Homo sapiens: one gene and its partners. The protein of the gene in region 2 interacts with the protein of the main gene of each other region in a pairwise test. Each region holds a gene or a part of one and is shown on either strand. Other genes may lie near its edges. The genes, in order: TUBGCP4, FBF1, ACCS and CINP.

Region 1 (8,195 bases), on a different chromosome or scaffold from region 2:
AGACTCCGTCTCCAAAAAAAAAAAACTCCAGGCTTCAAATGATCCTCCTGCCTTTGCCTCCCAAAGTGCTGGGATTATAGGCATGAACCACCGCCACACCAGCCTCTTAAAGGCATTTTAAAGAATCCTCATCAACAATCTATTATTTATTGTTGACTTGCCCCTTATTTTTATTGTTTGCTATAACTTCTGGAATCCTGTAGGTGACCAAGTCAGTCAGTAGACGGAATGTGGCCATGAGTGGATTAGGATGGGGCAGGGGAGGCTGGGCGCAGTGGCTCACACCTGTAATCCCAGCACTTTGGGAGGCTGAGCCAAACAGATCACCTGAGGTCAGGAGTTCGAGACCAACCTGGCCAACATAGTGAAACCCCTTCTCTACTAAAAATACAAAAATTAGCCATGCGTGGTAGCGGGCACCTGTAATCTTAGCTACTCAGGAGGCTGAGGCAGGAGAATTGCTTGAACCCTGGTATGTGGAAGTTGCAGTGAGCCAGGATCGCACCACTGCACTCCAGCCTGGGTGGCAGAGCAAGACTCCGTCTCAAAAAAAAAAAAAGGAAAAAGAGAAAAGGATGGGGCAGGGGAGAGTGGTCAGCCAGGACGTTGGAGGGAGGGGGTTCAGAATTATGCAAATAACTTCCTACAAGGCTGGGCAATATAAGGGTGTCTTTGGTCAGCCTTAATGTGACTTGGTTAGAAGGAAGATGAGTGGAGGCAAAGCATTTTCATTTCAATCTGTCAGGCATCTTAATGTCTTCGAGTGCTTAGAATATGCAAAGTGCTAAAATTTTTTGTAATGTCTATCAGGTAGATGTGTTGGAGTCTCAGTTCTCCCAGCTGCTTCATCAGATCAATTCTACCCGAGACTTTGAAAGCATCCGATTGGCTCATGACCACTTCCTGAGCAATTTGCTGGCTCAATCCTTTATCCTATTGAAACCTGTAAGTAAGGCTCATTGGTTTCCTCAGACTGCTTCTACCACTGACCATTCCCTTAGGCAGTTTGAGTTGACAGGATACGAAACCATCATTAAGCAATTATTCAAGTCCATTTTAAAACATTTTTTAAGAATGTGTAAAGCGGCGGGGCATGGTGGCTCATGCCTGTAATCCCAGCACTTTGGGAGGCCGAGGTGGGCGGATCACAAGGTCAGGAGTTCAAGACCAGCCTGGCCAACATGGTGAAAACCCGTCTCTACTAAAAATACAGAAGAAAAAAAAAATAATAGGTGTGGTGGCTCGCGCCTGTAATCCCAGCTACTTGGGAGGCCTGAGGCAGGAGAATTGCTTGGACCCAGGAGGCAGAGGTTGCAGTGAGCCAAGATCATTCCACTGCACTCCAGCCTGGGCAACAGAGCAAGATTCTGTCTTGGGGGAGCAGATAAAAAAAAAAAGAATGTGTAAAGCAAAACTAAAAAGGCATGTTAAACGGGACCTAAGATGTCTTTGAATTTCTGAAATACAGGGTGTGGTGAGCAGCTACAGATGAAAGAATTATGTGCTTAAACCCTCAGGAGTTAAAGAAACTCAAAATTCTTGCTGACAATACAGAAAAACCAATGAAAAGCATATAGAGTTCACCTTCTTAGAAATCTTTTGGACCAGGATGGATCAGTCATTTGAAAGTTCTTTTCATAGACAACTAGAGTAGTGTTTCTCTCTCGATCTATGTATGTGTTTCTGTAAGTACATATATGTCTCCTTCGTGGCAGTTATTTTCAACTTTGGCTGCACATTGGAATCATCGGGACTCTTTAAAAAAATCTAGGTGACAGAGCACTTAAATTAGAATCCCTGTAATAGTGGGACCCAGGTACTAATTTTTTTTAAAGCTCACAAGCTAGTTCCAATTCCAGGATAAAGAACAGGAAGACTGAAATGATCTCTGGTAGTTTCTAATGGAACGGTTATGCCTCCTCTGACATGAGCTGGTTGTTATTCCTCAGTGTGCTACAGCACAGCTGTTACAGACTTTTTAAAAATGTTCTGGTGTTTAGGGCTATTTCTGCTGTACCAGGAAGAGTAAGATATATATTAATAGATGCCACTCCAGAGGGCTGGCTGAAAACAACCAAGAACTACTGTGATGGGTAGATGCTGTCCTTATGTGGCATAGATGTATCCATAGGGAAAAGCAGAATAACAGAGCAGGTCATCATCATTAAATATTTATTGAGTGCTTACTGTATGCAAGGCACTGGGGATACAAAGAGGTATAATTCATGGCTCTGCCCTTAAGGAGCTCACAATCTAGTTGGAAAAACAAGACATATATATATATATACATACAAAAATCAGTAACAACACAGAGGCCTGAACAATTGCCAAGTGGACAACAGTACAGATAATAAAGAAGCAAGAAACGAGGGTTCACTAAAGGCTATAGTGGGGAAGGGAGTGCTTCACTGAGAGAGTGGGACTTGAACTGGTATTAAAAACAAGAGCATCCCGGGCAAAGGGAACAACACTCACAGCTCAGAGGCAGGAAGACACTCTGCGGGTCTAAGAAATGAAGAGTTAAATGTGGCTAGATTGGAGGTTTGGTGCAGGGCTAAGAGAGTAATACTCGCTTAGCCAGGAAAGGATGCATTTGTTTTACGCATTTTGTGCGTCTGAGGGGCTGGCAGGCCTTGCACGTGGCAGTGTCTATCCTGTCAGATTTGGGAGGTCAGCTATTAATTAGATCAGCTATTAATCAGACTGTTCTCCTAACACTTTAACTTCATGGATGTACCTTCCTTCCTTTCCTAATGCCAACTCTGTTTCCCGGGTAGGTGTTTCACTGCCTGAATGAAATCCTAGATCTCTGTCACAGTTTTTGTTCGCTGGTCAGTCAGAACCTAGGCCCACTGGATGAGCGTGGAGCCGCCCAGCTGAGCATTCTCGTGAAGGTGCGTCTGCCTGGAAGTATGCAGCCTTGCCGAAAGGACAGAGGTGGTTTTGCCAATGGAGAATTCATGATCTTTCCTCTGAGTCAGTAAAGCATTTCCTCAATACACACACGTACAGAGATAAGATACAAAGATAAAAATGTTGGTATCAGTTGATTTTGAAGCAGGTAATACTGTGCCACCTCACAGTGCTCAAAAATAGTTCAGTCCTGAATAGTTTATTCAGCCCATCAAATAAGCATTGGGTTGTTCTAACTTCCTCACATCCTCCCCCCTCCTTACTTCCTTGAACTAACCCCCATCTCACTGAGATAATTATCTGCTTGTAATCAAAACGGGTTCTCCCCAACCCCAGTACTTGACAAAATACATTAACTGGAAACCAGCTACTAAATTCCTACTGATGAAAGAGTACTTTCATAGGAAGTCATGCATGTATGGATTTGGTACAAGTCATTTTAGGAACTAATAGAAATAGGAATGTGGGAAGGCCAGGTGGTTCTGTAGAATTTTGAACAAGGCTTTTCCAAGAAACTCCTCCCTCCGCCCCCATCCTCCATATGGAGAGTTGGTGAGCTGAAGTGGAATGACAGCTGAGTCCTTCTCTCTGCAGGGCTTTAGCCGCCAGTCTTCACTCCTGTTCAAGATTCTCTCCAGTGTTCGGAATCATCAGATCAACTCAGATTTGGCTCAACTACTGTTACGACTAGATTATAACAAATACTATACCCAGGCTGGTGGAACTCTGGGCAGGTAGGAGCAACCCTTGGGTAACTCAGTAGACTTTTTAAGGTGGCTTTTTAATGAGTTGTAGAATTCTAGAACTGGAAGAAGACTTTAGTCCAAATACCCTCATTTTATAAGTAAGGCTTAGAGATAGAGGTGTGACCATCTTTAATAATTTTAATGGAGGTTATTTTCTAGTAGAAGTCATCATCATCATAAAATACTAAAAAACCTGACAGTGAGATAGGTGTTAAGTCCTTTGCTAGGTTATGTATTGCTATGCTGGGAGGCAGTGGGCCTTCCACTCCCAATTCTGATATGAACTAGCTGTGCAGCCGTGGGCACCCCGCCTTGCTGGTCCCTAGCTTCCGCATCTGTGAAAGGAGGCGACCACCCCTTCTAACTCTAAACTTTAAAAAAAACTGATACCGAGATTCAGTGGTAGCTGGCTTCCCAGAGGTCTGTCATTCCCATTCAGAAAATCACTTCATTGTCCTTTCTCTCTAAAATGTCTGCAAGCAGATTTTTTTCTAAGCTATTGTAGCAGAAGAGTCAAAAGAAACTCTTCAGTTTTAAGATGACATTATTTAGATCACAGGTTATCCTGATTCATATTTCTTTGAAGGTAGTCTTGGGAAAGCATGACACTTAATAAGGCTCTTTTTCTCTTTTGTAGTTTCGGGATGTGAAAATTTCTGGCTCATAAATTGAAATAACAGCCACGTTCCCAAGGTTGTAACAGAAGATTCAAAACATCCCATTCTAGCCACACACAAATAAATATCTGCGGCTTAGTGATAGGACTCTACCTTTTCTCCTAGAAGCAGTTACTGAACATCCAGGAGTACAACTCCTTCCCATCATTCCCATGTGGAAGGGTCTCTCCCATCAAGGAGAACATGTGGCATCTCTGATCCTTTACATTGAGAACATTTGTTGGATATGTTCATTTATTCAATAGTCATTTATTGAGCACCTACTACGTACCTTGGTACTGTTCAAGCTGTGGGAGATACAGCGGTAAACAAACAATATAGAGCAGAAAGTTAAATATTTTATGGTTCATATGTGAAAAAGTAATTATGTTTATAAATAGACTAACTGCTGGATGTTACCACCAAGTAAGAAAGCAACAGGTAAGATAGGCTTTCTCTCTCCCTATACCAAGTAATTTATACCTACACAGATTGGGCAATTCTAGCTAATGAAAATATACTTAAAAGTATTTCTTAGGCCGGGCATGGTGGCTCACACCTGTAATCCCAGCACTTTGGGAGGCCGAGGCGGGCGGATCACCTGAAGTCAGGAGTTTGAGACCAGCCTGACCAACATGATGAAACCTCGATTCTACTAAAAATACAAAAATTAGCCAGGTGTGGTGGCATGTGCCTGTAATCCCAGCTACTCAGGAGGCTGAGACAGGAGAATTGCTTGAACCTGGGAAGCAGACGCTGCAGTGAGCTGAGATTGTGCCATTGCATTCCAGCCCGGGCAACAAGAGCGAAATTCCGTCTCAAAAAAAAAAAAAAAAAAAAAAAAAGTATTATTCTCCAAGAAAAAGGTCCTTAAGAAAAAATTGAGATCAAGTTGTTAGATTTTTAAATACTGAAGATTGCAGGCCCAATTACCCATCTTACACAAACCATAGGGGTTGAAGTTATCTTAATATGGCCCAGCCATCACTGGTAATCAATATTCATATCAGTGTAAGTAAAAAGAAATATTCACTGAACAACGCCCTCCAAACTGAAAAAGAATGCAGTGTTCTGGCATCAGGTTATAGTCACTGCATCTGGTTTTCATCACTACATATTCTACACACACTGGGAAGCTCTGACAACTTATTCCCTGCTATTATCAACTAAAGATCACCCTTTCTACTGCTGTCTCTGGAGCAGGAGCTGGCAAACTATGGCCTGCTGTCTGTTTTTGTACAGTTTTACTGAAACACAGCCATGCCCATTTGTTTACTCATTGTCTATGGTTGCTTTCATGCCCTCACAGCAAAGGCGAGTAGTTGTGATGGATCAAATGGCCCACAAAGCCTGAAATATTTACTCTTTGACCCTTTACAGAAAAAAACCTTGTTGACCCCTGCTTTAGAGAATGAGAAGCCATGCAGGGATCAGTGATGCCAGAGGAAGGGAAGGAACTGCTTCCAGCTATTGTGACAATAATAATAATAATAATATTGGGTCTTTGACTAGAACGTGTAACATTTCCAGGTGTTCTCACTTGTGCTTCCCATGTTTATCTTACGGAAGGTCATTCCATCAAGCTTATGGTCACTGTCCCTTCATGGCAGTTGGTCCTTTCGTTCTCCCTTTAGCTCTAAGAGTTGGGGAGTACCCACAGGTGAGCTGTGATCTCAGCTCAGAGAGAGAGCATGAGGTCTTTTTTAACTGTCAGGAAACAGAGCTGTGCCCAATTCCACTCAACTTTTGGCACAACTGTTAATCTGGGCCTTCACCTACCTTAAACTGAGTTTCTGCAAGCATAGCATTTTAGACACCCTGGAATAACCTTTTGGGAATGATGCCACAGAATAAAGTTCACTCTTAACTTTTCAATTTCCTTGGCCAGCTGTCCTCCGTAAGTGAATAAGCCTGTTGAAAGACTCAGAGAAAGTACTATGTCTTGTCATTTGTTCTGAGATTAAGCTCAAAAAAACAGATGAAGAAATCCCAGTTACTACAACCAAAGAGATTCAACATTTATTTTATCATAAAAGTTCAGCAAATAAAACTATATACAAGATCCATGCAAGGAATCCAGTTACACACAAGACACATTTAAAACCTGGTTAAAACACAATCTCCACGATAGCAGGGAATAAAACCAGTAAGACCAAGTATCTTTAGTGAGAAACATAATCGTGTTTATATTTTGGATGCTGCTTGAATCCAATTCTCTCCCCAACAATGAGGCACTGGATCACCCACTCTTGTGACACCACAGGCAGCTGCAATGCTTCAGCACACTTCAGCACCGAGGCTGGGCATGAGGGGTCCGTCACCACCACATCAAATACCCCTAAAGCAATATCTGCAAGGAGCAAGGGAAAGTGAAGAAGGAAAGGACACTCAACTTAGCCCTCCATTAGAAAGAGAGATTTGATTCTAACCAATACATCCCACTCTGCACAAACCAAAGCCCTATTATGTCAAACACACTGCTACTGATCATGACCAAAGGCAGAGTTATAATCACTATGTGCTGACCTTGTAGAAATATTTAACAAATATACGTCCAGTGCTTCACTTATGTTGACTCACCTCTTGAAGGTGGTACTTTTCTTCTCTAAGAAACATGGATACGGTCAACCTATTAGGCCTGAGCCTTGGACCACAAGGCCTAACACCTACAGGTCTAAGGAGATCCCTGGAACAAAGACACTACACACACTCTTTCAGGTACCTTTGTTATGGGCACTTGAATGGTGCTGCTTCACAGAGGCTGCACCACCAGTCATGAGGATCTCAGACCAGAGCTCCAGGAAGTTCTGCTGTTGGTCTGATACCAAGAGTACCTTCAGATTCTGGAAAGGATTTTCACGGGGTTGCCTATGAAGGAGACAGGAAAGGACCTTAGCATGACAAGTAATATCCAACAAACTGCCTTTCTGCAAAGGGACTCATGTACATCTGAATGCTTTCAAAAATAAATGCCCCATCAGACATAGTGTCTCAAGCCTGTAATCCCAGCACTTTGGGAGGCTGTCGTGGTTGGATCTCTTGGGCCTGGGAGTTCGAGACCAGCCTGGGCAATGTGGTGAGACCCCATCTCTACAAAAGACAACAAAAAAATTAGCTGGGTGTGGTGGCGAGTGCCTGTAGTCCCAGCAGCTTGGGAGGCTGAGGTAGGGGGATCACTTCAGCCTGGGAGGTTGAGGCTGCAGTAAGTCGTCACTGCGCCACTGTACTCCAGCCTAGGTGACAGAGCAAGACTTCATCTTAAAAAACTAAGCCCTATATTAGGGTCCCCCTTCTCTTCCTTCTTTCTATGAATGATCTGTATTCCTTGCATTCCTGGCTTTCTAATTTCCATGTTTGTTCTGGGGCTGAGAATAATCCAAATCATGCTCCTGAGCCTATATATTTTTAATGCTTGCTTAAAACTTAGTTCTCTGACTTTACAGGTTGAGAATATTGAACCTATATACAAATCTTCACACATTTGCAAAAGGTTCCTAGCCAATGTAACCTAGGGAAATAAACTAGATAAACTCCTGAAGTCATTTCAAACCCACTCAAATTTATCCCACAGACATTCCAATTTCTAGAAAGCTTTACTCTCTCACCTAGATTCTCTTCCCTCCAAAGCTTGCTGTCCTCCTGCCTATACAATTCTGGATGGGCTTCAAATACTTACCAGTCCAGAATTCTTTGCTCCTCAAGGCTGTACCCAGCTGGCAACAGATAATTACGGTAGTTCTGGAGCTGGTTGGCATGGCAACTATCATGGACCCAGACATGAGACACACAAGGAATCCCACTGGCAAGGCACAGGAAGTACTTCCGGGTTCGACAATGCTGATCCGCAATTAGAAGACACTGGTAAGCTGTGTTACACTGC
Region 2 (8,195 bases):
TTCCCTAGATACCTTTCATATATAAGCACATGCTTTATTTAAATAATGATGACCTTAGCCAGGCACAGTGGCCTGTGCCTATAATCCCAGCTACTTGGGGGGCTGAGGCAGCAGGATCACTTAAGGCCCAGAATTTGAGACCAGCCTAGCGAGACCATAAATAAATTTTTTTATGCCAGGCAAGTTGGCTCATGCCTGTAATTCCAGCACTTCAGGAGTCCAAGGCTGGAGGATCACTTGAGGTCAGGAGTTCGAGACCAGCCTGGCCAACATGGTGAAACTAAAAATAAAGAAATAAGAAACTAGCCAGGCGTGGTGGCGCACGCCTGTAATCCCAGCTACTAGAGAGGCTGAGGTGGGAGAATCGCTTGAATCTAGGACACAGAGGCTGCAGTGAGTGGAGATCATAACATGGCACACCAGTCTGGTTAACAGAGCGAGACTCTGTCTCAAAAAAATAAATAATAAAAACATTTAAATTTTGTTTTAATTAACTGGGTGTGGTGGTGCACACCTGCAGTCCCTGCCTTTGCTCACATCCTTTTCCTTACCTGTGGAAATCTTTCTAGGCTGAATTCAATGGTAATGAATCTTTCGATGCTACCACCTCCACAAAGCCTTCCTTGTCCTCCCACCTATCTTTTTGTCCTCAGCTAGTAGTTATCATCTTCTAAGGTTTTACAAAGCACTGTTATTTTTTAGAGACAGGGTCTTGCTCTGTTGCCCAGGCTGGAGTGCAGTGGTGTGATCATAGCTCACTGCAGCCTGACCTCCTTGGCTTAAGCCATCCTCCTGCCTCAGCTTCCTGAGTAGCTGGGACTACAGGCGCAAACCACCACACCCAGCTAATTGTGTATTTTTTACTGAGATGTGGGTCTTGCCATGTTGCCCAGGCTGGTCTTGAACTCCTGGGCTCAAGCAATCTGCCCACTTAGGCCTCCCAACATTTTGAGAGTACAGGTGGGAGCCACCATGCCTGGCCAAAAAAAAAAATTTTTTTTAGAGATGGGGTCTCACTGTCACTCAGGCTGGAGTGCAGTGGCAAGATCTCAGCCCACTGCAGCTTGAACCTCCTGGGCTCAAGCAATCTTCCCACCTCAGCTGCCAAGTAGCTGGGATCACAGGTGCATGCCACTATACCCAGCTAATTTTTTGTATTTTTTGTAGAAACGGGGGTTTGCCATGTTGCCCAGGCTGATCTCAAACTCCTGAGCTCAGACAAGCTGCCCACTTTGGCCTCCCAAAGTGCAGGGATTACAGGCGTGAGCCACCATGCCCAGCCAAAAACTTTTTTTTTTTTTTTTTTTTTTTTGAGTCAGAGTCTCGCTCTGTCACCCAGGCTGTAGTGTAGTGGCGCAATCTCAGCTCACTGCAAACTTCGCCTCCTGGGTTCAAGGGATTCTCCTGCCTCAGCCTCCTGAGCTACTGGGATTACAGGCAACTGCCACCACGCCCAGCTAATTTTTGTATTTTTAGTAGAGATGGGTTTCACCACGTTGGCCAGGCTGGTCTTGAACTCCTGACCTCAGGTGATCCACCCGTCTCAGCCTCCCAAAGTGCTGGGATTATAGGGCTGAGCCACTGTGCCCGGCCCAAAAAAATGTTTTTAAAGAAGAAAATAAAAATATCCCACTAGTCAGAGATGTCCACTGCTGACCTGATATCTATCCTGTAGCCATGTCAACGTAGATAGAGATGCTTTTATGTTGTGAAGCATTTTGATTCGCCTCTTCATTTGGTAACTGTGTTAAGCATCTGCCTGGGGTCAGGCACAGTGAAGCTCTCGCCTTGTGCTGTGTGTGGCTGGGCCCACAGCACAGCATTAAGCCACCCTGTGCTTAGCCTGCTTGGCTGATGGGTGAGGACAGGCAGAGTGCGTAGCTGGCGATTCAGCGGCAGGGATGTTGCTGCTCTTTGGCCCTCCCAAGCTGCTAGCCTTGGTGCTGTTGGAGACCTGAGGGTTGGGAGGGCACCTGCTGGGTCCTTCTCTTGGGCAGAATCGTGCGGGCTGGGCCCTGGCAGTGCCTCCCAGGCACCCCTCATTTTGTGCCTCTTTGGGAAGGACGTGTCAGTGGCATAGTGTGGGAGACACTGGTGGGTTCATGCAGCTTCTCAGGGAGTGGCCAGGCGTGATCCTCAGGGCGGGAACCACGCTCTCAGTCCTGCCCTGGGCCCTACAGGAACGCTGGCGGGTGACTGCCGAGCAGTCCAAGGCGGAGTCCATGCAGCGCGCCCTAGAGGAGCAAAGGAAGGTCACGGCCCAGCAGATGGCCATGGAAAGGGCGGAGCTGGAACGGGCCAAGGTGAGTCAAGCCACCGCACTCAGCCCCTGCCCCTGCCATTATGCCCAGGGACACTCACCCCGTGCCTTCACCCCCACATCCCAGAGCGCCTTGCTGGAGGAGCAGAAGTCTGTCATGCTCAAGTGCGGGGAGGAGCGGCGGCGCCTGGCTGCCGAGTGGGCGGAGTTCTCCGCGCAGCAAAAGCTGAGTAAGGAGCGGGCCGAGCGCGAGGCCGAGCGGGCATTGCAGGTGGACACCCAGCGGGAGGGCACCCTCATCAGCCTGGCCAAGGTAGGGCCCAGAGCCTCCGGACAGTGGAGGGCCCAGGGTTGCCTGCGCCCCTCCATCTGGACACATCCGCTTCCAGTCTTAGGAAAGGAGAGTGTAGCACTAATGTCACAAGAGCATAGGGATTAAAACAGTAATCGCATCATCATGCTAACATCTTCCTCGTATTGTCCCAGGTGCATTATACACATTTTATTTGATCCTCATGTTCCCATGACTTTGGTCATTTAGAAATGAGGAAACCGAACTTCAGAGTTGAGCCTGCCACAGTCACGTGGCTTGTGAGGGCAGCACTCCGGCTTGGCCCCAGGCTTCTCTGGCTCTCCCTGGAAGCCCCTGGCTCCACCACCTCCTCCCAGGGGCAGGGTGGGCAGAGGGGACCCTAGAGTCCTGCACAGAGTGCAGCGCAATTCCTGGGAGGAGAATGCAGCAGGGCCTCCGCTGTCTCCAGGAGCAGGCTGAGCTGAAGATCAGGGCCAGCGAGCTCCGGGCCGAGGAGAAGCAGCTGGCAGCGGAGAGAGCAGCCCTGGAGCAGGAGCGGCAGGAGCTGCGGCTGGAGAAGGAGAGGATCAACGCCACCGCCCTGCGTGTCAAGCTCCGCGCCGAGGAGGTGGAGAGCATGAGCAAGGTGCTGCTCGGGCACATGGGCGTGGGCGCATCTGAGCCCAGGCAGCCCTGACCCAGGCGGCCTCCCTGCAGGTGGCCTCCGAGAAGTACGAGGAGGGGGAGCGGGCATTGCGCGAGGCCCAGCAGGTGCAGGCAGAGCAGCAGGCCCGGTTGCAGGCGGTGCAGCAACAGCAGGAGCGGCTGCGGAAGCAGGAGCAGCACATGCACCAGGCAAGGCTCCCTGAGTGTATGGCGCCCCTGCCCCCGGCACCCCCAGCCTCCCACCTCACAGCTGAGTCCTTCTTTCTGGGGGAACGGGGACAGGAGCATCTGAGTCTGGCCCAGCAGAGGCTGCAACTGGACCGCGCACGACAGGACCTGCCCTCTAGCCTCGTGGGTCTGTTCCCCAGGGCCCAGGGCCCTGCAGCCTCCAGCCAGAGTGGTGAGTGGCTCCAGAAGGAAGGGCCGGCGGCTCAGGACTGGGCAGGGGCAGTGCTAGGAGTGGGCAGGCCCTCCTCCAGCCGCTCCAGTTAAGGCGGCCAGCTGGGTTTTATAGTCGCCTTATTTCTTTTTTACACAAATAATGTGTGTTAATTTTAGATAAATCAGAAATAGAGGAACACTATTATGAAAAATGTCACCTTTTTGTAACTCTGGACTCAGGAAAAAAAAAGGAAATAAAAAAAGTCATTGTCAGGCTGGGCGTGGTGGCTCACGCCTATAATCTCAGCACTTTCGGCAGCCGAGGCAGGCGGATCATCTGAGGTCAGGAGTTCAAGACCAGCCTGGCCAACATAATGAAACCCCGTCTCTGCTAAAAATACAAAATTAGCCGGGTGTGGTGGCAGGTGCCCGTAATCCCAGCTACTCAGGAGGCTGAGGCAGGAGAGTCACTCGAACCCGAGAAGTGGAGGTTGCAGTAAGCCGAGATTGTGCCACTGCACTCCAGCCTAGGGGACAGAGCAAGACTCCGTTTAAAAAAAAAAAAAAAAAAAAAAAGTCACCCTCAACGCCACTCCTGAGTCTTGAGAGAACCACTTTTCACTTTTAACATTTTGGTGCATAATGTTCCACTCTGGTACTTTTTTTTTCTTTTCTTTTTTGAGATGGAGTTTCACTCTTGTCACCCAGGCTGGAGTGCAGTGGCATGATCTCGGCTTAGTGCAACCTCCACCTCCTGAGTTCACGCGATTCTCTTACCTCAGCCTCCCAAGTAGCTGCGATTACAGGCATGTGCTACCATGCCTGGCTAATTCTGTATTTTTAGCAGAGATAGGGTTTTGCCATGTTGGCCGGGCTGGTCTTGAACTCCTGACCTCAGGTGATCCACCCGCCTTGGCCTCCCAAAGTGCTGGGATTACAGGCATGAGCCAACGCGCCCAGCCTGGTACATGTTTTTAAAAACAAAATTAGGATTGTATGTGTTTTTCAATAACTTTACTTTTTTTACTCAGTAATGTACACGTGGAACAGGTTTTCAGATCAGTCATTAAACATTTAGTCAATTCCCAATCAGCACAGTTTTCCACTGTGAGGCTGCTCTGTGCTGAGTGATTTGTTGTCTTAAAGAGAAAGACTACCCAGTGGACATCTTCCTACATATGTGTTTGTACCTTTGCCTGATTATTTCACTGGAATAAATTCCTATAAATGGTCTTTCCAGGTAGGAGCAGGTATGCATTTGCCAGAGGCTTCTGAGAGTTAGTGCCATTGCACCCTGAGTATATGGCCAGGGTCCACCCACTGGCGGGGGGAGCAGCTCTGCAGGAACAAGCTGTGACCGCCCGGTATTTCCACCAACACTTTGGTCCCTGACTTCCTCCTTGGCCTTTTCAGCCCTCATGCCTCCTGCTCCCACCACCCGTTGGTGCAGCCAGCCGCCAACTGGCCTGGACCCCAGCCCCTTGCACCTCCATGCCAGGCTGGCACTGCTGAGGCACATGGCAGAGCAGGTGAGTCTCTCCTGGCCTTGGGGATCCTTGTGTTCACGAGTCCTTCCAGCTCAGGGCAGAGGCAGGGAGGAGCACATGGTAGCCCTGGGGAGGGGTGACCCCAGCTCCTGGGGAGTAAAACTGCAGTTTGCTTAGTGAGCCAATGCTCAGACTTCCACACTAGGCCAGGTTCTGTGCAAAGCAATTTGCATATGTCATCTCAGTTAAACCTCATGATAACCTATAGCAATAATGATAACAGGCTGGGCACAGTGGCTCACACCTGTAATCCCAACACTTTGGGAGGTTGAAGCAGGAGGATCACTTGAGCCCAGGAGTTTGAGACCAGCCTGGGCAATATGTTGAGACACCGTCTCTACAAAATGAAAAACTAAAAAAAGAGGACCAGGTGCGTGGCTCACACCTGTAATCCCAGCACTTTGGGAGGCTATGGTGGGAGGATTACTTGAGCCCAGGAGTTCGTGGCCAGCTTGGGCAACATAGTGAGACCTCGTCTCCACAAAAAAATAGCTGAGCGTGGTGGCATACACCTGTACTCCCAGCTACTCCGGAGGCTGAGGTAAGAGGATCACTTAAGCCCGGGAGGTCGAGGCTGCAGTGAGCCACAACGGTGCCACTGCACTCCAGGCAACAGAGCGAGACTCTGTCTCAAAAAAATAAATATTAAAAATTTAAAAATTAGCTGGGCATGGTGGGGCATATCTATAGTCCCAGCTACTTGGGAGGCTGAGGTGGGAGGATTGCTTGAGCCCAGCTGGTCGAGGCTACAGGTGTGTTCACACCACTGCACTTCAGCTTGGGTGACAGAGCAAGGCACTTGTCTCAAACTAAACAAAACAAAACTATAATGATAACAGTTGTCATTATGGAGCATTTCCTGTGTGCCAACCTCAATGCCGAAGGCTTTGTTTATATTTTACTTATTTATTTATATTTAGAAATGGGGTCTCACGATGTTGCCTCGGCTGGTCTCAAAGTCCTGGGCTCAAGTGATCCTACCCCCTTGGCCTGCGGATTAGCTAGGATTACAGGCATGAGCCACTGTGCCTGGCCTGCTTTGTGTATTTTTTAAGCTTTTACCCTCACACAGCCCTGCAAGGAAGGGCTACAAGGAATGTTTACAGACAAGGAAACTGAGGCTTAGAGACATGAAGTCATGTGCTCGTAAGTTCCACAGCAAACAAGTAACCTTGCCAGGATTGAGACTGTGGTCTGTCTCACTCCATACCTGGGCTCTTTCATGGCCCCTGCTGACTCCCAGAGCCAGGCAGAGTCAGGGACGATGTGGGGAGGGGCCTCAGTGACGGCTGGCTCAGCTAGCATCCAGGGCTCCACCTCCCTCTCAGCTCAGGGAAGGTGACCGCCCATCCAAACCTGCCTTGCAGGACCGTGACTTCTTGGAGAATGAACAGTTCTTCCTGGAGACCCTGAAGAAAGGGTCCTACAATTTGACATCTCATTCAGCCTGAGTGGGACCCCAGCCGATTCCCCAACAGAGGGTTCGGACCCCAGAACTGTCCTGTTCCTCCGGCTGCCTCCATGGAGGCAGTGCCTGGGGAGGATTCTGAGATGCTTGAGGCCTGATGACAGCTCTTCCGTGGACAGGGTGCAAGTGCATCCTTTCCAAATGTGCCAGCCCGGGGCAGCCCCTGCCTCTGGGGCTCTGTGGTGTAGGCTATCTTACCATGGCTTTGGCTGCCCTGCCCCAAAGCCATTGGCTTGGATCTGAGGGTCTGAGTTGGCAGCAAGGACCCCCAGCTCTCACTGGGCTCTGTGGGCTCCCCCTGGGCTCTGTGGGCTCCCCCTGCTCCACAGGTAGACTGTTGTGGGCTCTTTTTGCCTGGGCCTCTTCTGAGGCAGGAGCTTTCTTGAGGGATGCCACAAACAGCCTTCCCTACTCCCTGCCAGAGCAGTTCCCTCCCTGATGAGCTGGAGAAGGGCCCTCTGGCCTCCTGACAGTACAGGGAGGGCACCAGCTAGATCCTCCCTTGTGGTGTGAGATGTTCCTGGAACTCAGCCAGGCCCTCCTCCTCCTGGGCTTGCCCAGAGCCCCCACCCTATTCCCAGCATTGCCCGAAGGACCAACCAGTTTGGGTGAACAGTGGCCTCCTCAGCTTCCTCCCCATCTGGGTGCCCCACCGGCGGCGGAGGGAGCTGTGGCGATGGTGGGGTGTGGGGAGGGACGAGGAGGGAAGCCTCTGTGCTGCTCACCTGCCCAAAGCCCAGCTCAGCGGGTACGCAGTGGAGGCGACAAGGAACCAATCACAACTACAGAGGTTTCTCTGATCCTCCTCCACTCCCGCTGCTTCAACTTGACTAAGCTTAAAAAAACTGCTTTTGCCATGGCTCATCGGAGTTTATACTTATTTCTTAGAAAATGTTTCCTGTTATTTGCTGGACAAGTCCCAAAGAACAGGCAGATGTTCTTATTAAAAGATCAGCCTATAAGATTGGTCAGGACCAGGCGCCTCTGGCCACGTGCCTCTCCCCTCCAGCACCTGCGGTCTGCGGTGGCACCTGGCAGCTGGACCACAGCCAGGAGAAGGGTACTATTAGCCCTGCTTCAAACATGCAGAAACTGAGGCCCGGGGAGATTAAATAACCTGCCTGAAATGACAGTGAGTAGCTGCGCCTGGATTTGAGTTCTGCTCTGGCCAATCCCCAAGCTCCACGCTGTCAGCCACCCCGCTCTCCTACCTCCCAGAGGAGCAGGCTACACTCCTGGTAGGTGCTGGTGTGGGAGGAAGATCTTTTCAGGCGCTTCTGGGGCTGGTACCAACACTGAGGAGGGAAGTATCACATGCCCCATTGGAAGCCTTGGTTAAGTCTCAAATTTGATTCTCCACAAAAGAGACTCAACCAGTCCTGAGGCAGACCTGTGCAAAGAGCTGGGGGGGTCTAAGGATGGGCACGTCGGCCCAGGGGCAGCTGGTATCTAGGCAGCCACCTGCAGGACCTGCAGGTGATCAAGCACATACATCGGGGAGGGCGGTGCTGGGAGACCCACAGGGGGAGAGCATGGCCTTCAAGACAGAGTAGGGAGAAGAGGTTAGAATGAGAGGGCTTT
Region 3 (9,088 bases), on a different chromosome or scaffold from region 2:
AGACCCTGTCTCTACAAAAAAGAAAAAAAAATCTGACAAGCTTGGTGTCTTAGTCCCTTCATAATATGAAAATATCACAAAGTGGATGGCTTAGAAACAAATCTTTCTCACAGTTCTGGAGGCTGGAAAGGCCGAGTTCAAGGCCCTGGGAGATTTGGCATCTGGTGAGGGTCCCATCTTCCCAGTGTCATCTCATGTGGCAGAAGAGGTGAGAGGTCTTCCTCTGCCTTCATGACCCAATCACTTTTCAAAGGGCTCACCTTCTAATACCATCACCTTGGGGGTTAGGATTTCAAATATGAATGTTGGGGGGACACATTCAGTTCGTAGCATCTGGGGTTGTCCATTTCCATTTCTAATGTTTTCAGCTGTTCAAATTAAGCCACCCATCAGTTTCTCTGCAAAGCCCTTGCATGTCAGAGCACTGATACTGTGAAGTGGGCAGAGAAGGGACTACTACGATTTTATGGATGAAGAAAGAGCTCACAGTACCAACTGGTGGCTTTAGTCGCTTGGGTTTGTGGCCGTACTTGCTCCGAATCCAAATTTGTTTATTCTTGTCAGTTTTCTTGTGTGTGTGTGTGTATGTGTGTGTTTTTGTTGTTGTTGTTGTTGTTGTTGTGAGACTGAGTCTCACTCTGTCGCCCAGGTTGGAGTGCAGTGTCACAATCTCGGCTCACTGCAACCTCTGCTGCTGGTTCAGCGATTCTCCTGCCTCTGCCTCCCAAGCAGCTGGGACTACAGGCACGTGCCACCTCGCCCAGCTAATTTTTATATCTTTAGTAGAGACAGGGTTTTACCATGTTGGCCAGGCTTGTCTCAAACGCCTGACCTCAAGTGATCCGCCTGCCTCGGCCTCCCAAAGTGCTGGGATTACAAGCTGAGCCACCGCTCCTGACCGATATAGCTCTTTTTAAAAAACCTCTAGTATAACGTTGAATAAAAGTGGTTGAGAGGACAGCCTGCCTTGTTCTCAGTCTTAGTAGCATTGAGTGCAATCTTCTGCTCTTGAGTATAACGTTACTGTATTTTTCATTCTGTCCCTTATCTAATAAAGAGTCCTTCTATTACTAGTTTGCTGGGAGTTTTACCATGTATGAGGGTTCAATGTTGTTAGATGTTTTTCATCTGCATTTATAGAGATATGATTTTTCTCTTGATTATCAATGTAGTAAGTTACATTGATTTCTTAATGTTAAAGCAACTTCACATTGCTGCAATAAACCCCATTTGGTCATGATGCATTGTCCTTTTATATACCATTGAGTTTGGTTTGCTATTTTAAGAAGTTTACATTCAAGAAGGACATCATTCTATAATTTTTTTTTTTGTAATGCATTGTTAGTTTCAGTATCATGATTAATACTGGTTTCATAGATGTTTGGGAAACTGTTCCTTCCTGAATTTTCTAGAAGTTTGTGTCCAAAAACTTCTTCAACCTTTAAATATTTGGTTGAATTCAGCTGTAAAACCATAAGGGCCTGGAGGTTTTTTTTTTCTTCTTTTTTTTTTTTTGTGGGACGGCTTTTACTTATAAATTCAATTTCTGTGACAGTTCGAGTTTTCTATTTCTTGTATCAGATTTGGTTATTTGTGCCTTTCAATAAAGTTTGTCTATTTCATCTAAGTTTAATTATTGACTTAAAATTGGTTATAAATATTCTGTTATCCTTTTAATACATTTAGGATCTTTAGTTGTATCTCCTTTTCCTTTCCTGATACTGAAATTGATACATGCAGGAGGGGGATTACGGGGAGGGTCTCCGGAGAATCTCCAACCCATCTGTGCACTGGGAGAACAAGATGGAGCCAAGGGAAGCTGTGGCCATGCTCAGCGGGGAGGAGCCTGGCCTCTTCAATTTCTGTGTGGTGGCCTGGGATTCAATGTGAGTTTGGAGGCCTGTTAGCAGGACCCCCTCTTGCTCTGCTGACAGTATTTTTCTTTTTTCCTTTTTGCCCAGTAAATTCCGTTCCCCTCACCCTTCAATGTGTCCATGTTCCTAATCCTTCCTGGTGGTGTGACAAGAACCCGGTTTTAGCTGAACTAAGGAGCAAAATTCTGCAACAAAATGAGTTTTTTTGATCAGTCAATCTAACTGTTTATCAACTGTATTGAACTTTTCAAAGAACCAACTTTCAGTTTCATTGATTTTTCTCGTTTCGCCTTCATTTCTGCTCTTATCTTTATTTCTTTCTATTTACTTTGGGTTTAATTTGCTCTTTTTTCTAGCTTATTAATGTGGAAGCTTAGATCATTTGTTTTAAGTTGGTTTCAAATATATGCATTACAAGCTATTCATTTCTCACTTAGCATTATTTTAGCTACATTCCATAAACTTTGATCTGCTGGTTTTTAATCATTCAAAATATTTTCTAATTTCCCTTGTGATTTCTTTTTTTAAATCAATGGTTTGCTTAGCATATGTAACTTAGTTTCCAAATATTTGGGGACTGTTCAGCTTTCTTTGTTAATGATTTCTACTTTAATTTCATTGTGACTAGAGAATGTACTCTATGGTTTCAATCCTTTGAAACTTATTAAGACAGTTTATGGCCAGATTTGTTTACAACATGTGGTCTATCTTAATGTTTCATTTGCACTTGAAAAGAAGTATATTCTGTGGTATTGGGGATGGTGTTCTATAAATGTCAATTAGATTAAATTTTTGTATAATGTCCAAAAGTTCTGATCCTTAGTGTCTTTTGATCCATTTGTTCTATCACCGAGAGAGTGGTATAAAATTTTCCAATTATTATGAACTTGTCTTTTCTCTTTTTCGTTCTGTCAGTTTCTGCTTCATGTATTTTGAAGCTTTGTTATTACGAGCATAAACTTTTAAGATTGTCACCCTGATAAATTAATCATTTTATTCTAAAATGCCCCATTTTATTTTTGTTAATTATTTTTGTCTTGAAGCCTACTATCAGATACCAATATGAACACATCAGCTTTTTTCATGATTATTATTTGCTTGTTTTTTTTCACATTTTTACCTTTGACCATTTGTTTTTGTATTTAAAGTGTGTCTCCTGCACACACCATATGCTTGATTCTTGCTGTTTTATCCAGTCTGATGATCTTTTAATTGATCTTTAGTCAATTCACATTTAATGTAACGTGTGTGTATGTCTTCCACTTAGGACAAGTGCCTGTGTTTGTTGTTTCGTGGGGTTAAATCCCCCTGCTGCATGTTTCCATGGTACCCAGTAAATAGTCTTTTTAAAATAGTCCCCACATTGTAAGTCGGCCTTCCCAATCAATCATGCAGGCTTTGGTTTGTCTTGCTCATCACCGTATCCTCGCATTTTACAGAGACCTGGCACATAACAGGCATTCACTGAGATGTGAATTACATAGAATTAAGATTTAAATAGAGGAAAATAATCGCTTCCTTATCTTACAGAAGAAAACAGTAAGGGCCAAAAAAGTCATGAGAGTTGCTCAAGGTCACAGTGTTAGCTAGTGCAAGGCAAAAGTGAAGACAAGAAGTGGAATGGCCAGAAGACAGCCATGTCTTCCCAGCCATACCTGTATTGAGAGATTCTGCTTATTTCCTTTCATGGGGAAAGAAGACTTTCCCATTCAAGGCACCTCAGAGACTGCAGCTCTACCTGGGACCTGGGTGCCCACTGTACCCATTGCCAGAATATGTAGAGCTTAGGGCAGAGTTTGAAAAATACTTTTGAAATTATATGTGTGTGTGTGTGTGTGTGTGTGTGTGTGTGTGTGTATGTAATTTTTTTTTTTTTTTTTTTTTTTTTTTAGATAGAGTCTCGCAAACACCCAGGTGGGAGTGCAGTGGCACGATCAAATTCACTGCAGCCTCTACCTTCTGGGCTCAAGTGATCCTCCCACCTCAGCCTCCCAAGTAGCTGAAACCACAGGCACATGTCATCAAGTCTGGCTAATTTACAAAAACATTTTGGCTGAGTGCAGTGGCTCACGCCTGCCATCCCAGCACTTGGGAGGCCGAGGCGGGCAGATCACGAGGTCAGGAGTTCAAGACCAGTCGGGACAATATGGTGAAACTCCATCTCTACTAAAAATACAAAAATTAGCCAGGCGTGGTGGTGCGTGCCTGTAGTCCCAGCTACTGGGGAGGCTGAGACAAAAGAATTGCTTGAACCCGGGAGGCGGAGGTTGCAGTGAGCAGAGATTGTGCCACTGCACTCCAGCCTGGATGACAGAGCGAGACTCCGTCTCAAAAAAACAAAAAAACATAAAAACCTTTTTTTGGTAGAGACACGGTCTCTCTATGTTGCCCAGGCTGGTTTCAAACTCCTGGGTTCAAGGGATGCTCCCACCTTGTCCTCTCAAAGTGTTGGCATTACAGGCGTGGGCCGCCACACCTAGCCAGAGTTCAACAAATATTGCAGGCACGTGTGGGAGACCAGGACATGCCTCCCCAAAACATGAAGGATTGTGCTAAAGACAAGCAGCAGCACATTCAGGAAAGCTCTCTACCCTGGCCCTATTTGCCTAAAAGTAGGACACAGGTTTACAAAGACAAAAGGTATCCTGTCCCTCTGTCTACCTAGGAGAACAAAGACAACTTTAGACCCCTATGGCCTGGAGATGGTACCAGAGGAATTTACATTAACAAGCTTGACTAACTGGCCTTTGTCTTTTTTTTTTTTTTTTTTTTTTGCCTTCTCACAAGTTGCCTCCTGGAGAGACTCAAAGCCCTATTTCTTTGTCTTGTAACTTAAAAAAATTACTGTTCTTTGTTGAAGATGCTATAAAAACTGGAATTCAAAGTCACCTCTTCCAGAACGACTCATTCCCTCCAGATTTCTCATGTATAAATGAAATACACATGTCAGTAAATTTCTGTCTGTTTTTCTCTTGTTAATTTGTCTTTTGTAACAGGAGTCTCCCCCAACTAAGAACCTATGAGGGCTACAGAAAATCCCCTACAAATGAAAGGGGCAGAAATGACAAACTGCGATGAAAGGCCATAAGGATGCTCACACCCGAATCTAAAAAGCCCTTTGTGTGGGCCGCAGCCAAGCATACTTTGGCAAGAAATTTCTGTGGCTCTAACCTCCTTTGAAAACTGGAGAACCAAGGCCAGGAGGCAGAAGGAGGTGGCAGACCCGGCCCGGCGGCGGCCCAGCACGCGCAGGCCACCCAGAGTGGAGGTGGGAAACGGCATTACGCCCCTTTCCCTTTTCCTGGTCCCGCGGTGCTACCTCGTGTGCCACCCTTAAAGCGTAGTCCCCGCCGAGACCGCCCCCGCCTGAGTGGCAAGGGGACGAACTGCGCCCTGAACAGGCCTGGAAGCCCAACCCGGTGCGGACCGCCCTCAGTCTCCTAGTCCGGGCGCGCTGAGCGCAGGGGGGCGCTGTCCTCACCCACGCGTAAGTCGCCGCAGGGCGTTTCCGGGCGGAGAAAACCTACACGTGATGGGCGCCCACCGAGTGCCAGCACCGCCTCCTCCAGCTCCGCCAAGTAGGTGGGATCCACTACTTTGCAGAGGAGGAAGCCGTTCAGGCCTCCCTCTGTGCACTTTGCAAAAGCCTCTGCCCTTCCATCTCGAATCCCTTGGCGCCGATCACACTTCCTCTGCCTGGAAACCTGGAGCCGTCTCTCGCGAGACGTCCTCCGCCCTGTAGAAGGCCGTTTCGGTTCTTCGTGCGCGGTAGCCGCCCCACTTGCGGGATTCCAAGGCCTCATCGAGTGCGGGTATCTGGCTGTGGATTCGCCGCCGTCCTGCTGGACGCCTGGAGGCTCGAACCCCGCCGCCCCCCTACCCCAGGCTTTACTCCCACCCCGGCTTCCGCCCACTGTGCTGCCCTTCCTCGGACCTGGGCTGTCGGGAGAGCTGGAGGTGAGCGCTCTTGGGAGAGCCCAGCCAATTTAAAGAGTACCCCTGAGAAGACTTTGCGGAGGAAAATTTAACTGCGGGTACCCGCTGAGTTTATGGTGCGCCCAGTGTTACCAGAGCTTGTGTTGTGCATCAGGACTGGGAAAATTGGCAAGGAGTTACGCTATAATGACTCATATTTTATTGAACTTTGGTCATCAGCCAGGATTTGTTCTAAGTACTTTATTGTCACTAACATATATATTTATGTCTTCACGGCCACCCCGAGGTGGTTACTGTTATATCCACTGTGCAGATGAGGAAACTAAACTGGCTTAGAGAAGTGAAGGAGTTCACACCCGCGGGCAGGAGTAGACCACCCTCTCCTTGGTGTCCACACCTCGTTTCTTCAGGACTGAAGAGGCAGGCCCTGGAGCTCTGCCTGGGTTGCCTGCACTTGTGGAGGTTCCCATTCCTCCCTTCCCTCAGTTCCTACCCGCCATCTGCCTCAGAACACCACATAATCTCATCCTACCCTTTACACCACAAGACCCCCAGGACTCCCAGGCAATACTCTGCTTTAACTCAGGAAATTTTAACCTGGCATTTGGTAATTGAGGTGAGCAAGGGTGGAAAAAGAATGTTGATGACCCCTTAGGCTGGAGAGTGAAAAACTTTTGCAGAAGTAGAACACGCTAAAGCAGCAATACATTAAAGTCACGTCAATGTGGCAAGTGCAGTCCCTGGCACGTACTAGGTCCTTAACAGATTTTTCTTGTTGAAGTCGTTGCACATATGGTTACAGCTAAGGGACACAGGAAGTGATGAGTGCATAAACCTAAAGGAAGGGGCAGATAAGAGAAAGGGGACTCCCATGACTCCAACTCCTTTCTGATGCTTGGTGCTATGGAAATCCCTTGAGCAGGCCTGTGCGTTTTGTCTTTTTGCAGATGTTCACCCTTCCTCAAAAGGACTTCAGGGCTCCCACCACCTGTCTGGGCCCCACCTGCATGCAGGACCTGGGCAGTAGCCATGGGGAAGATCTGGAAGGAGAATGCTCCAGAAAACTGGACCAGAAGCTGCCAGAGCTCCGTGGAGTGGGTGATCCTGCCATGATCTCCTCTGATACCTCCTACCTGTCCTCTAGAGGAAGAATGATTAAATGGTTCTGGGATTCAGCTGAGGAGGGCTACAGGACCTACCACATGGATGAGTATGATGAGGACAAGAACCCCAGTGTGAGTGAAGCTCCCCTCCCACTGGGACCCAAGAGAGAACTGCAGGGTGGGGTACCCTACCTTGACCAATAAGGCAGCATCCAGCCTGCTCTTATGAGGTTGGAGTTATGGTACTCTGACCTCCAAGAGGGCTTCTGATGTAGCTTAGAGAGGCCCCAGTGTACTGCCTGGATCAGGAAATGGTCCATTTAGAATATAGGGGACCTTGATTTCTGAGGGAGGAATTCAAGAACCATATGATGTTCTATGGATTCTGACCCACGACCTGTCGACTATCCAACTTTAGAGCTAGGGCAGAACTAAGGTTCAGGTTGCAACTGTTTTACTTATAGGTTGTGTGTTGCTGAGCTAGTTACTTAACTTCCTTGAATCTTAAGTTATCTCTAAAATGAGATAATAAGGCCAAGCATGGTGGTTCATGCCTGTAATCCCAGCACTTTGGGAGGCTGAGGCAGAGGGAACACTTGAGGCCAGGAGTTTGAGACCAGCCTGGGCAGCATAGCAAGACCCCATCACTACAAAAAGGTAAAAATAAAAAAATTAACAGGGTGTGGTGGCGTGCACTTGTGGTCCCAGCTACTGGGGAGGCTGAGGTGGAAGGATTGCTTGAACCTGGAAGGTTGAGACTATAGTGAGCCAAGATCATGCCACTGCATTCTAGCCTGGGCAACGGTGTGAGACCCTATCTCAAAATAACAACAAACAAACAAAAATAAAATAAAATGGGATAATAATACCTGTTGTGTAGAAGAGTCAAGATTAAATGAGAGCAAGTATATGAAGTTTTTAGCACAGTGCTACTCAATAAATGATAGCTGCTATTATTATTTTCTGTCCCAAATATAAGCTATTCTCATAATGCCTTCAGAAGTCAGAAAGCTGTTACAAATAACCCTTTAATAATCTTTATTTGTTGAGCATCTACCATGTAGATGTGAACAGAAACAAAGTTCTTATCCTCATAGAGCTCATATTCTAGTTAGGGAGACAAACAGTGAATGAACAGAGAAAATATATGTATACTATATGGTGGTGAGTACTATAGAGAAAAATAAACCAGGTTAAAGAAGACAGAGAAAGATGGGTGGGCTGGGGATGTTGCTATTTAGTAGAAGGAGGTCACAGAAGGCTATTTTAATAAGATGAACATTTGAGCAGAAACCTGGAAAAAGTGAGGGATTGTGTTAGTTATCTATTGTTGCATAACAAATGACCTCAAATCTAGCAAGTTAAAACAACAATTCACAATTTTTGGAGTTCAGGAATCCTGGTGGATGCCTCAGGCTCAAGATCTTTTTTTTCCTTTTTCTTTTTCTTTTTTTTTTGTGACGGAGTCTCGCTGTGACACCCATGGAGTGCAGTGGCATGATCTCGGATCACTGCAACCTCTGCCTCCCGGGTTCAAGGGATTCTGCCTCAGCTTCCTGAGTAGCTGGGATTACAGGTGTGTGCCACTATGCCCAGCTAATTTTTGTATTTTTAGTAGAGACAGGGTTTTGCCATGTTGGCCTGGCTGGTCTCAAACTCCTGACCTCAGGTGATCCGCCTGCCTCCGCCTCCCAAAGTGCTGGGATTACAGGCATGAGCCACCGCGCCTGGCCAAGCCACCGTGCCAGTCCACGCCACCACGCCCAGCCTCAAGATCTTTTGTGAAGGTGCCATGAAGCTGGGGCTGTGGTCTCATCTGAAAGGTTGACTTGGGGCCAAGGGATTGGGTGGGAGGCTCTACTTCCAATGACACTCTTATGCTTATTGGCAGGCTTCAGTCCTTCTCCACGTGGGCTTCTTCACAGAATTGCCTCATGGCATGGTAGCTGGCTTCTCTCAGGGCAAGTGATTCAAGAGAGAATCACTTGGGTCATGGTACCCAAGATGGAAAGCCACAGACTCTTTATAACCTAACTTTGGAAGTGACATCCCATCACATCTGCCTATTCTGTTAATTAGAAGCACGTTGCTAGGCCCAGCCCATACTCAAGGGGTGTGAATACCAGTAGGCCTTACAGGCTGCGCATCACAGGGAGTAAGCCATGCAGTTATCTA
Region 4 (6,304 bases), on a different chromosome or scaffold from region 2:
TGGGCTGGGCAGTGCATGACTGTAGTCTCTGAGGAGACTAAGTAGGGAGGATCACTTGACCTCAGGAGTTTGACACTACTTGGGCCACATGGTAAGAGCCTATCTCATAAAAACCAAAAAACTAAAACTGCTGTTTATTAAGTATCACTCTATACACAGTCCCACAGAATATAAACAGTTTGGGATCAGAGAACTTACAAAAAGGCAAACGCAGATGTAGAAACCATGTAACAAGTAATGCCACAAAAAAGAGTTTAGGCTTTTGCAGGCTCGGCGCGGTGGCTCACGCCTGTAATCCTAGCATTTTGGGAGGGCGCGGTGGGTGGATCACGAGGTCAGGAGATGGAGACCATCTTGGCCAATGTGGTGAAACCCCGTCTCTACTAAAAATACAAACATTAGCTGGGTGTGGCGGCGCGTGCCTGTAGTCCCAACTACTCTGGAGGCTGAGGCATGAGAATCGCCTGAACCCAGGAGGCGGAGGTTGCAGTGAGCTTACATCGTGCCACTGCACACCAGCCTGGTGACAGAGCGAGACTCCATTAAAAAAAAAAAAAAAAGTAGGCTTTTGCATACCTTCACATTCTCCCCATGCCCTAGCTTTTGGCCAGTCTCTTCGGTCTGTTTCAAAACTGTCACCTTTCCCTCATTCTAACCTAGTATGTTAACTCTGGAAATGGCTGCAAACATTGTGAAACTCGAGGATTTGTGTCAGAAGAATGCCAGGGAAGGCAGTTTACATCGCTTGCCATGTCCCCAGTATGCAAACAGCGGCAATTTTTTTGTAGGTTATTTTCATTTTCATGATGTCAAACTTCATTTTAACTCCATGGGATCTTATTATTTAAGACGAAGTCTCACTCTGTCGCCCAGGCTGGAGTGCAATGGCTCACAGCAGCCTCTGCCTCCCGGTTCAAGCCATTCTCCTGCCTCAGCCTCTCAAGTAGCTGAGATTGCAGGCACGCGCCACCACGCCAGCTGATTTTTGTATTTTTAGTAGAGACAGGGTTTCATCATGTTGGTCAGGCTGGACTTGAATTCCGAACCTAAAGTGATCCGCCCACCTCGGCCTCCCAAAGTGCTGGGATTACAGGCATGAGCCACCGCACCTGGCCCAAAAACTAATATAGTCTCATAAAAACTTCAACAATCAGATAGGCATAAAGTAAAAATATTAAACCAGGGATTTTCTACACAAACATAATGTATAAAGCATGCCTAATTTATAGAAACTAGATCACTCACTCATTCTGCTCAGAAACTCATTGATTTTACTCTGAAGCACCCACGAATGACAGATTCCCAGGAGGGGCAGAGAAGGCTGAGCAGCACCACGTGGGGCTGGCCGCGGGTTGTGGGCATGAGCACGCCTGGAGAGGCCATGGGGCTGGTGACAAGCTCTGGCCAGAAGACCCCAAGGTCTGATCCTGGGGTCTGATCCAGGCCTGCGGCACTGGGTCCTAGGCAGACTGTCTGCCTGGTGAGACGTGGAAGGAGCCAGTGTCCGCAGCCGTCTCAGGACGTCAGAGAGCTCGGTGGCCTGTCTCCAGCAGCATGCTCTCCAGATGCAGCCTGCTGTCGCTCTCCACATAGGGCTGGTGCAGCCACATGGACAGGTAGCTCAGGGTGAGGTCGGGATCCCCGGTGTGGGCAAGCTCCTTGGCCACCGTGCGCTTCAGGAGCAGCTCCTTCCTGTACATCTCCAAGAGCTTATGCGAAACCTCATCTGAAAGAAACGTGAATCTCCCTTAATGGCAGTGATTCAAGAACATAGTGTCGACTTGGGAAGAACTACATTTTAACAGCTCTTGATTAAAAACCAGAATCAGCAACAGCACTGAGGGGAAGAAGGGCCCGATGGAGTTTACTACTCTAGCTGGTGCAGATTAGTACAATTTGATAACATGGTCAGCAGAGTGAAATAAAAAGTGTATACAAGCCGGGCGTGGTGGCCCACACCTGTAATCCCAGCACTTTGGGAGGCCCAAGTGGGTGGATCACCTGAGTTCAGGAGTTTGAGAACAGCCTAGCCATCGTGGCGAAAACCTGTCTCTACTAAAAAATACAAAAACTAGCCAGGTGTGGTGGCACGCACCTGTAATCTCAGCTACTTGGGAGGCTGAGGCACGAGAATCGCTTGTGCCTGGGAGGCGGAGGCTGTAGTGAGCCAAGATTGCACCACTACACTCCAGCAGGCGTGACAGAGCGAGACTCTGTCTCAAAAAAAGTATATATAACCTTTTCTACTTGACTCTTAGGTGACCTACAGTGATTATCAGTAGGAGATTCCCCTCAAACTGACAATATTTCACTAAACACATTCCACTAGGTGATTTTACCCTTTCCTGCCTTATTTAAAAAGTCTCAGGTCAACATCAAATAGCTTACCCTTGTCTTGAACTAATAAAAGCTAAAAGTAACCCTTTAAGAAGCGCCTCATAGAGTTTACTGAAGCCATGGGTTTCATTTTTCCCAGTCATCTTCCATGAGGTTGGCTGCAGTGACCCTCAATTTGTTTTTTAATTAAAACAAAAAACAAAAGAAAAACCTCAACAAACCAAAAAAACTCCTTTCTTCCTTTCCCCCCCTCAAAATGAGAGATATCTGCTTCCACAGAGGAGGTGGAATTCACTCTGCCCATTGGTTTTAGAGGCCTAATAACAGCAGCTTGCTTCACGGGTCTCTATGTTTCATATACTCTGCTGATAACCAGGTAATTAAAGCCAAGAAGAAATGTTTAAGATGCCTCTGTCTCCTTTCCTCCCGATACTTTTGCATTGAATTTGAAAGCCTTGTCAGCTTCTTAAAGTACCAGATGTAAACGATACTAAATGCCCTTAATAACCTTTACCCTCCTGAAAATCAACTGAGAAGGAACTACTTACAGAAATGGGTTGTAGGCCACGTGTGGAACAGAGGGGGTCGTTTACTCTCCTCCCCATAATGGTAGTTTTCTAGTTCACAAATTCCCTTGGTAGTTGAAGACAGCTTTTCCATTTTCACCTGTATTTTGGTCTGAAAGATATCCATTTGGAATATGATAATATTATTTGAAATCTCCAGTCTCAGATTTAATAACTCTAAGATTTCAAAGCTAAGAAGTGTAAGTCTATTATGATAAAAATTCCAATAACTAAACACTGTTAACTCTACGTACAGCAAATTCCCAGGGAGATGAAGGTGGACAGTTGCTATGATTTCATTAATTTGAATGACTTTGGTAATAAACCCCAGATTTCCAGTCCTAGAGCAAGAAAGGTTTCCGAGTGCCATTTCACTAGGATTTCCAAACAGCATTAATGTCTTAGACCCAAAGACCTGGAGGAATCCCAAGGCAGGCTCTTGCTGCCTTTTTTTTTTTTTCTTTTTTTTTTTGCGACAGGGTCTCATTCTGTGTGGCATGATCATGCCTTATGCAGCCTCAACCGCTGGCACCTCAGCCTCCCAAGTAGCTGGGATCACAGGTGTGCACCACCACACCCAGCTAATTTTTTTTAATTTGTGGAGACAGGGTCTCGTTATGTTGCCCAGGCTGGTCTCTAACTCCTGGGCTCCAGCAATCCTCCCGCCTCAGCCTCCCAAAGTGCTGGGATTATACAGGCATGCGCCACCGCGCCTGGCTGGCTCTTGCTGCTTTTAAGAAGTGAGAGAGAAAGGCATCAAATGAGCTCGTTTCTGATGCTCTCTCTCTCTCTCTTTTATCAAATGAGCTCGTTTCTGAGGCTCTCTGTCTCTCTATCAAATGAGCTCGTTTCTGATGTTCTCTCTCTCTCTCTTTTTTTTTTTTTTTTTTGAGACGGAGTCTTGCTCTGTTGCCAAGCTGGAGTGCAGTGCCAGGCTGGAGTGCAGTGGCGAGATCTCGGTTCACTACAACCTCTGATTCCCTGGTTCAAGCGATTCTCCTGCCTCAGCCTCCCAAGTAGCTGGGATTGCAGGCATGTGCCACCACGCCCAGCTAATTTGTGTATTTTTAGTAGAGACGGGGTTTCACCATGTTGGCCAGGCTGGTCTTGATCTCCTGAACTCGTGATCCGCCCACCTCGGCCGCCCAAAGTGCTGGGATTCTAGGCATGAGACACCGCACCAGGCCTGACTCTCTCTTATTAACTGCCTTTATTTACGGAAACCTCCTTGACTTCCTTGTTTATAAAATGGCAACACAGAAAGGGAGCCCTACACACTTCACGCAGAAAGGAAGGAAACGTGGCAAGCTGCCATTGACGGTCCCTCAGTGTGGACCAGGCTCTGTCCTAAGCCCTGTAACTGCATGATGTGTATGGCTACTTGTGGGAGACACTAAACCAACCCCACTGCACACACCAGGCAGCACAGAATAGGGGCAATGGCGGGCTTACTTTCACAGCTTGGTGAAGAGGATTAAGTGAGTTAGTATTTGTGAAGCACCTACTTGGAGATATATAAGGGTTGGATAAAGAAAATTAATGGGTGAAGTAACTAGGATTTCAGATTTAAGTAGCATAGGTCTATAAAGACCAAATTTTGAACTCCTAAGTATAGTTGACTTTACATACATAAATATGAAAAAGGGGAAATAAGAAAAGATATATAAATTGTCAAATATCTTAATTCCTTTACTTGGTCCTTCCAACCACCCTCCAATTACATTGGAAGTGGCAAGCACTAAATTCAGCTAACGTTAATTTTTAAAGGACTTTACTTAAGTAGTTTCCCAAATCTTTTAAGGTTTGATATTTTATTTGGCCCAACCCCAAGAGGCAGGACTTGTCATTTCCGTTTCACAGCTGGGAAATTGCTTAAGGTTGAGCTGAGGAAGGATGAGGCCAGAACTCGATACCATGCCTTCTGACACCAAGTTTTTTTGTTTTTGTTTTTGTTTTTGTTTTTTTTGAGACAGAGTCTCGCTTTGTCACCCAGGCTGGAGTGCAGTGGCGCGATCTCCGCTCACTGCAACCTCCGCCTCCCGGGTTCATGCCATTCTCCTGCCTCAGCCTCCCAAGTAGCTGGGACTACAGGCGCCCGCCACTGTGCCTGGCTAATTTTTTTGGTACTTTTAGCAGAGCTGGGGTTTCACTGTGTTAGCCAGGATGGTCTCGATCTCCTGACCTTGTGATCCGCCCACCTCAGCCTCCCAAAGTGTTGGGATTCCAGGCGTGAGCCACCGCGCCCAGCCGACACCAAGTTTTAACACCCAATCCTCTGCTCTTTCCTGTGAGTCCTGCAGCAGCTCCCTGGTGCCACCTGATTCTAAGAAAAGCTGATAACAGGAGACTAAGGAAAATTCTGGAGCCTTGACCCCAGGCAAGAAGTCATGCTCAATCCTGCAGCTCAGCCATCAATAAAGAATTCAAGTCACATAGGCACGTGCAGCCCTGAATGAACAGTGCATAAACAGCAGGCCCTTACATTTCAACATCGGTGGCTTCTTCCCACAGCAAACACAGACCACAGTGAAATGTTAGCCCAGCTTAGGAAGAACGGTGCATGAAACCCCCAGAAGGTCAAAGTTATGAAAGACACAGACCAGGTCTGGAAACCATTCTCTATAACGGATAGAGGAAAATAGGAAAAATAATAATACCCTATAAAATCAACTTTTGGTTTTGAACATAGAATGAGAACTTATTCCCAAACCACTTTTCTTTTTCTTTTTTTCTTTTTTTTGACACGGAGTCTCACTCTGTGGCCCAGACTGGAGTGCAGTGGCTTGATCTCGGCTAACTGCAACCTCCGAAAGTGATTCTCCCGCCTCAGCCTCCCAAGTAGCTGGGATTGCAGGCACCTGCCACCACCCCCAGCTAATTTTTTGTATTTTTAGTAGAGATGGGGTTTCACTATGTTGGCCATGCTGGTCTCAAACTCTTGACCTCAGGTGATCCACCTGCCTCGGCCTCCTAGAGTGCTGGGATTACAGGCATGAGCCACTGCGCCTGGCCAAAACAAAAATTAAAAAAAAACAAATAAAAATACAACAATTAGCTGGGTGTGGTGGCAGGCACCTGTAATCCCAGCTACTTGGGAAGCTGAGACAGGAGAATCACTTGAACCCAGGAGGCAGAGGTTGCAGTGGGCAGAGATCACCCCACTGCACTCCAGCCTGGGCAACAAGAGTGAAACTCCATCTCAAAAAAAAAAAAAATTAACAAATGGGAGGGAGGGAACAAATCTCCCACGCAGAATAATTCCAAATAATTTATGTAGATACTGCACCCTCAAGCAGGTGGTGAATACGTCCCTACCCCCAGGTGTGGGCTATGCATAGTGACTTCCTGCCAAAGAGCACAGCGTGGGAGGAGGAGAAAGAGCAACGTCACAGCAGAGGAAC

The links.
Region 1: the proteins of FBF1 (region 2) and TUBGCP4 interact in a two-hybrid assay, tested with the Homo sapiens proteins (2 studies listed by BioGRID and IntAct).
Region 3: the proteins of FBF1 (region 2) and ACCS interact in a two-hybrid assay, tested with the Homo sapiens proteins (2 studies listed by BioGRID and IntAct).
Region 4: the proteins of FBF1 (region 2) and CINP interact in binary tests that used the Homo sapiens proteins (3 or more experiments, as listed by UniProt).

The regions. Positions count from the first base shown.
Region 1 is NC_000015.10:43,400,906-43,409,100, forward strand, and holds part of TUBGCP4 (gamma-tubulin complex component 4), read left to right. Parts: intron 1-810; coding exon 811-945; intron 946-2,155; exon of another isoform or gene 2,156-2,777; coding exon 2,778-2,894; exon of another isoform or gene 2,895-3,507; coding exon 3,508-3,647; exon of another isoform or gene 3,648-4,296; coding exon 4,297-4,309; 3' UTR 4,310-6,477; coding exon of another isoform or gene 6,478-6,665; 3' UTR 6,666-7,029; coding exon of another isoform or gene 7,030-7,183; 3' UTR 7,184-7,991; coding exon of another isoform or gene 7,992-8,191; 3' UTR 8,192-8,195. Other genes in the region: TP53BP1 (TP53-binding protein 1), read right to left, coding at 6,478-6,665, 7,038-7,183, 7,992-8,191. UniProt on the Homo sapiens protein: Component of the gamma-tubulin ring complex (gTuRC) which mediates microtubule nucleation.
Region 2 is NC_000017.11:75,909,125-75,917,319, reverse strand, and holds the end of FBF1 (fas-binding factor 1), read left to right. Parts: intron 1-2,180; coding exon 2,181-2,303; intron 2,304-2,387; coding exon 2,388-2,573; intron 2,574-3,021; coding exon 3,022-3,198; intron 3,199-3,269; coding exon 3,270-3,407; intron 3,408-3,500; coding exon 3,501-3,618; intron 3,619-5,012; coding exon 5,013-5,128; intron 5,129-6,513; coding exon 6,514-6,597; 3' UTR 6,598-7,746; downstream 7,747-8,195. UniProt on the Homo sapiens protein: Keratin-binding protein required for epithelial cell polarization. Involved in apical junction complex (AJC) assembly via its interaction with PARD3. Required for ciliogenesis.
Region 3 is NC_000011.10:44,060,871-44,069,958, forward strand, and holds the start of ACCS (1-aminocyclopropane-1-carboxylate synthase-like protein 1), read left to right. Parts: upstream 1-5,399; 5' UTR 5,400-5,831; exon of another isoform or gene 5,832-6,123; coding exon of another isoform or gene 6,124-6,426; intron 6,427-6,757; coding exon 6,758-7,045; intron 7,046-9,088. UniProt on the Homo sapiens protein: Does not catalyze the synthesis of 1-aminocyclopropane-1-carboxylate but is capable of catalyzing the deamination of L-vinylglycine.
Region 4 is NC_000014.9:102,347,034-102,353,337, forward strand, and holds the end of CINP (cyclin-dependent kinase 2-interacting protein), read right to left. Parts: intron 3,016-6,304; coding exon 2,886-3,015; intron 1,727-2,885; coding exon 1,524-1,726; 3' UTR 1,249-1,523; downstream 1-1,248. UniProt on the Homo sapiens protein: Component of the DNA replication complex, which interacts with two kinases, CDK2 and CDC7, thereby providing a functional and physical link between CDK2 and CDC7 during firing of the origins of replication.